Homo sapiens: one gene and its partner. The protein of the gene in region 1 purifies or fractionates together with the protein of each later gene. This does not show direct contact. Each region holds a gene or a part of one and is shown in the gene's direction. Other genes may lie near its edges.

The links. Proteins that work in one complex are often made in the same cells at the same time.
Region 2: the proteins of VWCE (region 1) and ZNF696 purify together in Homo sapiens (co-immunoprecipitation; 3 studies listed by BioGRID and IntAct, with this or other methods). This does not show direct contact.

What each region holds. Positions count from the first base shown.
Region 1 is NC_000011.10:61,288,702-61,292,448, reverse strand, and holds part of VWCE (von Willebrand factor C and EGF domain-containing protein precursor), read left to right. Parts: intron 1-872; coding exon 873-967; intron 968-1,095; coding exon 1,096-1,185; intron 1,186-1,521; coding exon 1,522-1,650; intron 1,651-3,747.
Region 2 is NC_000008.11:143,294,270-143,298,016, forward strand, and holds part of ZNF696 (zinc finger protein 696), read left to right. Parts: intron 1-1,470; coding exon 1,471-2,531; 3' UTR 2,532-3,747.

The sequences.
Region 1 (3,747 bases):
ATAAGAAACCCTTGTCATCAGGGAGTTGTAGGGGAGACAATGAATTAATAAATTAAAATCTAATGTCACAGGAAGTAAATGTTGTGGAGAATAAAGCAAGGTAAGGGTGGACAAGGAAGGCCTCTCTGAGAAGGTGCCATGGGCAGAGATCTGGGTGAAGGGAGAGAGGAAGCCCAGTGTGTGTCTGAGGAAGAATCTTTCTCTCTCTCTTTTTTTTTTTTTTGTTTTGAGACGGTCTGGCTCTGTCACTTAGGCTGAAGGGCAGTGGCGCCAACTTGGCTCGCTGCAACCTCTGCCTCACAGGCTCAAGCCATTCTCCCACCTCAGCCTCCCGAGTAGCTGACCCTACAGGTGTGTGTCACCATGCCCAGCTAGTTTTTGTGTTTTTAGTAGAAACGAGGTTTCACCATGTTGCCCAGGCTGGTCTCAAACTCCTGGGCTCAAAATGATCAGCCTGCTTCGGCTTCCCAAAGTGCTGGGATTACAGGCGTGAGCCACCACACCCAGCCATAAGAACCTTTCTTATAGCAGGAACTGCAAGTGCAAAGGTCCTGAGGCAGCCACCCCTGGGGCTCCTCATCTATTGCACAGCCTTTCTTCAACTCTGAGGCCCCTCTCCTGGCCACTCTGCTGTGTGTTCACGTGGCAGATATCTGTAGGAGGCCAGTATCTATTGTCTCACACTTTTGTCTCTGTCTTGCCTCCAGGAGAAGACTGTTTGGGTCATTTTTCTTTGGAAACTTCCCATTGCCCCTCCAGACAGTTCTTGAGAATTGTTTGTTGATTCACTTACACACTGGCTGGGAGACTTTCCTGTTGACCAATGTCTCCCCCAGTATAGAATGAGGAAAGTGCTCTCTCTTCTCTTGCAGACGCCGACTGGGCCCCCACGTCTGCCTCTCTGGGTTTGGGAGTGGCTGCTGCCCTGGCTGGGCGCCCTCTATGGGTGGTGGGCACTGCACCCTGCGTAAGTGCTTGTCCCTGTGCCCCAAGTCTTCTCCTCCAGCAGTGTGTGTTGCCAGCCCTCAGTCCCTGGTCCGAGGGGCAGACGGGAGGCCCCAGTTCCTCGTGTCTCACCTGCACTTCTCCTCTCAGCCCTCTGCTCCTTCGGCTGTGGGAGTGGCATCTGCATCGCTCCCAATGTCTGCTCCTGCCAGGATGGAGAGCAAGGGGCCACCTGCCCAGGTAACTGGGGATGGGAAGGGGCTGATGGGAACAGATGAATGAGCATTGAGGTTATGTCCTGGGCAGTGGGCACTTGAGATGTGTCCTGGTGTCTCAGCTTCAGACAACTCCATTAGGTAGACATTTTGTGCCCATTTTATAGATGAAGAAACTGAGACACAGAAGTTATTGTCTTGCCCGGGGTCACACAGCTGGTAAATGGCAGAGCTGGATTTAAACCCAGGCCTGTTTGCCTTCAGAGCTACCCTCCCAACAGAATTCAGGAGGACCCTGGTGAAGTGGGGATGGTTGGGACTGCCACGGGGTGCATGCTCACTGGTGTGATGCCTGCTCTAGAAACCCATGGACCATGTGGGGAGTACGGCTGTGACCTTACCTGCAACCATGGAGGCTGTCAGGAGGTGGCCCGAGTGTGCCCCGTGGGCTTCTCGATGACGGAGACAGCTGTTGGCATCAGGTGTACAGGTGAGACGCCTGGGAGTGGTGGGGGAGGGGGAGGGGGACAGCGGGAATTATATCTCCTCCCCCTCCTGCCAGGATGGTCTCCAGTGTATTGCAAGGCTAAGCTGAGCCAAGATAGGCTCTGATGTTTGAGAGTGGGCAGAGAGACATGAGAACAAAAGAAATGTGTCACTTCTGTTATTTTACAATTATTTATTGAGCACTTCTTAGGGGCAGGAACTGAGCTAGGGACTGGGGTTATGGGAGCCACAGTTGGTCCCTGTTAGGGAGTTTTTTTTTTTTTTTTTTTTGAGACGAAGTTTCACTCTTTTGCCCAGGCTGGAGTGAAGTAGCATGGTCTCAGCTCACTGCAGCCTCCACCTCCTGGGTTCAAATGATTCTCCTGCCTCAGCCTCCTCAGTAGCTGGGATTACAGGCGGGTGCCACCACACCCAGCTAATTTTTGTATTTTTAGTAGAGACAGGGTTTTGCCATGTTGGCCAGGGTGGTCTCGAACTCCTGACCTCAGGTGATCCACCCACCTCGGACTCCCAAAGTGTTAGGATTACAGGCGTGAGCCACCGCACCCAGCCCCATTAGGGAGTTTCTGAATATGAGGAAGGAAGACAAGTAACAGGACAAGAACAGCTCCATTGTCATGGGGACCTTCACTGGGAAGGGCAAGGTGCCAGGGCCCACAGAGGGGCATGGAACCCAGAGTTGGGAGGGTTGGCCAGGGGAGGCTCCTTGGGAAAATGACATTTAAAAGATGAGGGACGCTAAACTCAATAATTAGTTTGTGAATGTATTATTTGCTTGTGATTTTTAAAACATTTCTACGGACAAAATCTGTTACCTTCCCCAGAAACAGTCACTGTGACCAGTTTCTTGTCAATCTTTCCAGAGCGACAAAAGCCTTTTTGGAGTTTTAACTTCGTAAAAGTAATATTTCTCCCCCTGAATAGAAAAGCAAGAGATAGTTCATTGTAGAACATTTGGAAAGTAAGAGGAGAAAGATGAAAATAAGCATTCTCTGGAAGTCCCCACCCGGAGATATTTGTTACTAAAATGAAGTTTTTTTTCCTGCCCTTTTCCCTGGGTGTGTCTGTGTTTGTGAGTGTGTGTATGTGTGTGTATGTATGTTAAGCATGCAGCATATATGTATGCTTTATAAAACTGGGATTATATCTTATCTGTAGCTTTTATTATTTTTCCCATCTAACTTTATGTTGTAGGCATCACTAACAATTCCTTGCAACATAATTTTTTTTTTCGCTAGGCTTGGTGGCTCACGCCTGTAATCCCAGCACTTTGGGAGGCCGAGGCGGGTGGATCACTTGAGGTCAGGAGTTCAAGACCAGCCTGGCCAACATGGTGAAACCCTGTCTCTACTAAAAACACAAAAACTAGCTGGTGTAGTGGTACATGCCTGTAATCCCGGCTACTCAGGAGGCCGAGGCAGGAGAATTGCATGAACCCAGCAGGTGGAGGTTGCAGTGAGCCGAGATCACACCACTGCACTCCAGCCTAGCGACAGAGCAAGACTGTCTCAAAAAAACAAAAAGAAAAAAAATTTTTTTTTAGCAGTTACATATGTGGTTGCTGTAATTGAAATAACTATTTGTCTGTTGTCCCTTATTTAAGAGGTTTGCAGTGTTTCACCAGTATAAATAATGCTGCCATAGGGCCGGGCACGGTGGCTCACCGCTGTAATCTCAGTACTTTGGGAGGCCGAGGTGGGTGGATCACGAGGTCAGGGGTTCGAGACCAGCCATGACCAACATGGTGAAACCCCGTCTCTACTAAAAATACAAAAATTAGGTGGGTGTGGTGGCGGGTGCCTGTAATCCCAGCTACTCAGGAGGCTGAGGCAGAAGAATTGCTTGAACCCGGGAGGCGGAGGTTGCAGTGAGCCAAGTTCGCGCCACTGCACTCCAGCCTGAGTGACAGAGCGAGATTCCGTCTCAAAAAAAAAAAAAAAAACGCGCCATAAAGAGGCTTCCTGTCAGCTTCTCTGATTATTTCCCAGAAGGACGCTGTTGGGTCCAAGGGTCTCAATAAAGGGGTCTTGGAGCTCATTGCTTGTTGCAGCATCTCCTCCAGATAGGAAAACCAATGGAA
Region 2 (3,747 bases), on another chromosome or scaffold:
AAGGGCCATTGATAACGCAGCCTGGATGGGGTTGCTCAGCCTGACCAGCGCCGCCGCCGCCCAGCCCACATGGGACGTGGGTTGCTGCTTCCAGCTCTTGTTCCGGATTTCTTTTCTTTTCTTTTTTTTTTTTTTAAGACAAAGTCTTGCTCTGTCGCCAGGCTGGAGTGCAGTGGCGCCAGCTCACTGCAATCTCCACCTCCTGGATTCAAGTGATTCTTCTGCCTCAGCCTCTCAAGTAGCTGGGACTACAGGTGTGCACCACCACACCCAGCTAATTTTTGTATTTTTATTAGAGATAGGGTTTCACCTAATCTTGATCTCTTGACCTCGTGAACTGCCCACCTCAGCCTCCCAAAGTGCTGGGATTACAGGCGTGAGCCACCGCGACTGGCCTCTTGGTCCGGATTTCTGTCTGAGTGAGGACGCTCCTGTTTGCACATAACAGAAGCCCTTAGAGTTTGGTGTTTGGGGGCAGTTGTTAAGGAGTCTGCGTTGTCTCAGGGAGTCCAAGGTAAAAGGAATGAGCTGGGGCCATGGCTGGGTGTGGTGGCTCACACCTGTAATCCCAGCACTTTAGGAGGCTCAGGTGGGAGGAGGGTTGAGCCCAGGAGTTCAAGACCAGCCTGGGCAACACATTGACACACTGTCTCTACAAAAAATTTTTAAAATAGCCTGGTGTGGTGGTGCTCACCTGGAGGTGCGCCACCTACTTGGGAGGCGGAGGGAGGATCACTTGAGCCCTGAGGCTGCAGTGAGCCATGATGGTACCACTGCACTCCAGCCTGGGTGATAGAGCAAGACCCTGGCTCACAAGAAAGGAAGGAAGGACAGACAGAAGGCAGAGCTGGGCCGTGGGCTCTGTTGGGTGCCACTGTCCCCGGGCCTCCTGCTACATCTGCCTCGCTCCCGTCCTGGCTTGCTGCCAGCTGTCTCCAGCCTCCTTTGCTTTCCCAGCTGTCCCGCAGAGTAAGGCAGTGCCCAGAGCCTGCGTTTCTGTCCCCTCCCCTCCCAGGACTGGGTGGGCCGAGGCTAGAGGTTTAGCCCTGTTTCTAGCCCCGTTTAGCCTCGTTTCTGTTTGTATATTTTTAAAATTCTATTTTTTTAAGAGACAGGATCTCACTATGTTGGCCAGGCTGGTCTTGAACTCCAAGTCTCAAGTGGTCCTCCTGCCTCAGCCTCTGAAAGTGCGGAGATACAGGTGTGAGTCACCACATCCGGCCCCACAGCCCCGTTTCTGGAGTGGCAGTGCAGGATTCTCGTCTACCTCATAACCATGGGGGTTAAGAAGGTGGGGAGGAGAAAAAAACTAAAAAAAACGAGGCGGGAACTGAATGGGCAAAATCAAAGGTGTCTGTGGCACACTGACGTCACCATCACTGTCACTCTGTCGTCACCACGATTGCCAGAGCCACCCTCGACTCACGTTCTCTTACATCTAAAATCGTTCCTGTCTGGCCTCTTTTTCAGCTGTGAAGGCTGCTTTCCTGGCGCAGGCCCCGAGTGGCAGCCGGTCAGCCGAGGTGCAGGCAGCTCAGAGCACGGAGCCTGCCGCAGAGGCAGGCGCTCCCGAGGGAGAGGGCCACAGAGGGGGGCCTCCCCGGGCGTTGGGGTCTCTTGGCCTTTGTGAAAACCAGGAAGCCAGAGAGAGGCCCGGAGGTTCCCCTCGAGGCCCGGTCACTTCTGAGAAAACTGGAGGACAGAGTGGCCTCGAGTCAGACGTCCCTCCGAACGCAGGCCCCGGCGCAGAGGGCGGGGGCAGCTGGAAGGGGCGGCCTTTCCCGTGCGGCGCCTGTGGCCGCAGCTTCAAGTGCTCCTCGGACGCGGCAAAGCACCGGAGCATCCACTCGGGGGAGAAACCGTACGAGTGCAGCGACTGCGGGAAGGCCTTCATCCACAGCTCGCACGTGGTCCGGCACCAGCGGGCGCACAGCGGGGAGAGGCCCTACGCGTGCGCCGAGTGCGGCAAGGCCTTCGGCCAGAGCTTCAACCTCCTCCGGCACCAGCGCGTGCACACGGGCGAGAAGCCCTACGCGTGCGCCGACTGCGGCAAGGCCTTCGGCCAGAGGTCGGACGCCGCCAAGCACCGCCGCACCCACACCGGGGAGAGGCTGTACGCGTGCGGCGAGTGCGGGAAGCGCTTCCTGCACAGCTCGAACGTGGTCCGGCACCGGCGGACCCACCACGGGGAGAACCCGTACGAGTGCCGGGAGTGCGGCCAGGCCTTCAGCCAGAGCTCCAACCTCCTCCAGCACCAGCGCGTGCACACGGGGGAGCGGCCCTTCGCCTGCCAGGACTGCGGCCGCGCCTTCAGCCGCAGCTCCTTCCTCCGCGAGCACCGCCGCATCCACACCGGGGAGAAGCCCCACCAGTGCGGCCACTGCGGGCGCGCGTTCCGGGCGCTGTCGGGCTTCTTCCGGCACCAGCGACTCCACACGGGCGAGAAGCCGTTCCGCTGCACCGAGTGCGGCCGCGCCTTCCGCCTGAGCTTCCACCTCATCCAGCACCGGCGGGTGCATGGCGCCGAGTGAGCCGGGGCTGCGGCGGAAGAGATGCCGGCGGCCTGGTGGGCGCGAGGCCGAGGCCGGGGGAGGCTCCTGTCCGCCCCGTGCGCGGTGAGGAAGTAACAGCCGGCTGCGCGCCTGGTTCTCGGGTTGCGAAAGCCTCGCCAGGCCTGCATCCGCCTTGGCTTGGGAGCAATCAGGAGAGACAGGGCTCGGGGAAGGCGAGCGCTGCCCGCGGGAGGCGATTCCCAGAGGCGGGGAGGTCTCAGGGGTCTGTCCCGGGCCGGCCGCCCGCCTCTGAGACTCCCCGCCTCCCACGGTCAGCTGCTGCGGGGCAGTGGCCGGTGATTGAATCGGTCATTCCTCCGCAACCAGGCCTCCATCAAAACCCTGCATGAGATGAGGGCCTCGGGCTTCGGGTTGGTGAAGGCGGGGTGGGGGGGCAGTTAGGAAGGGGGCGCCCAGACAGGGCATGGAAGCCTCGCGTCCTCCCCCGTACCTTGCGGGTCGGTGGTTCATCCATGTATTTCAACGCCTTTTCACAGCCGGTTCATATGGTCCCGACTTCTGTGTGCTTAGAAAATTATGGAACTTGGCCGGGTGCGGTGGCTCCCGCCTGTAATCCTAGCACTTTGGGAGGCCGAGGCGGGCGGATCACACGGTCAAGAGATCAAGACCATCCTGGCCAACATGGCAAAACCCCCATCTCGACTAAAAATACAAAAAATTAATTGGGCGTGGTGGCGTGCGCCTGTAATCTCAGCTACTTGGGAGCCTGGGGCAGGAGAATCACTTGAACCTGGGAGGCGGAGGTTGCAGTGAGCGGAGATCTGGGCACTGTACTTTAGCCTGGGCGACAGAGAGACCCATCTCAAAAAAAAAATTGGAACCTGAGAAGGGGGTCGTGGGGTCCCCGGGGCCCACCGTCTGCACTTGGCATCTGAAGTCGGGGTGGTCTTGTGGGACTGACCCCTTACCCTGTGGGTTCTGCACTAGCTCCGGGCAATTGGTGACAGAATCGAGTTAAATTGTAGGACATCGCGTTGGTGTCTGAGAGGGAGTTGGAGAGCTGGTTGGTGTGGAGGGAAAGGCTTACACACATGTGATTTCAGAAGCGTTCTGTGGGTAGAGGAATCGTTTTCTCTTTGAGACTGTTATGAGTATGTACAAATGTTATTTCCTGTAAAATATTTTCATTTTTTAAAATGTTATTTTCTAGATAGAAAAGTAGAAGTGTCTCTTT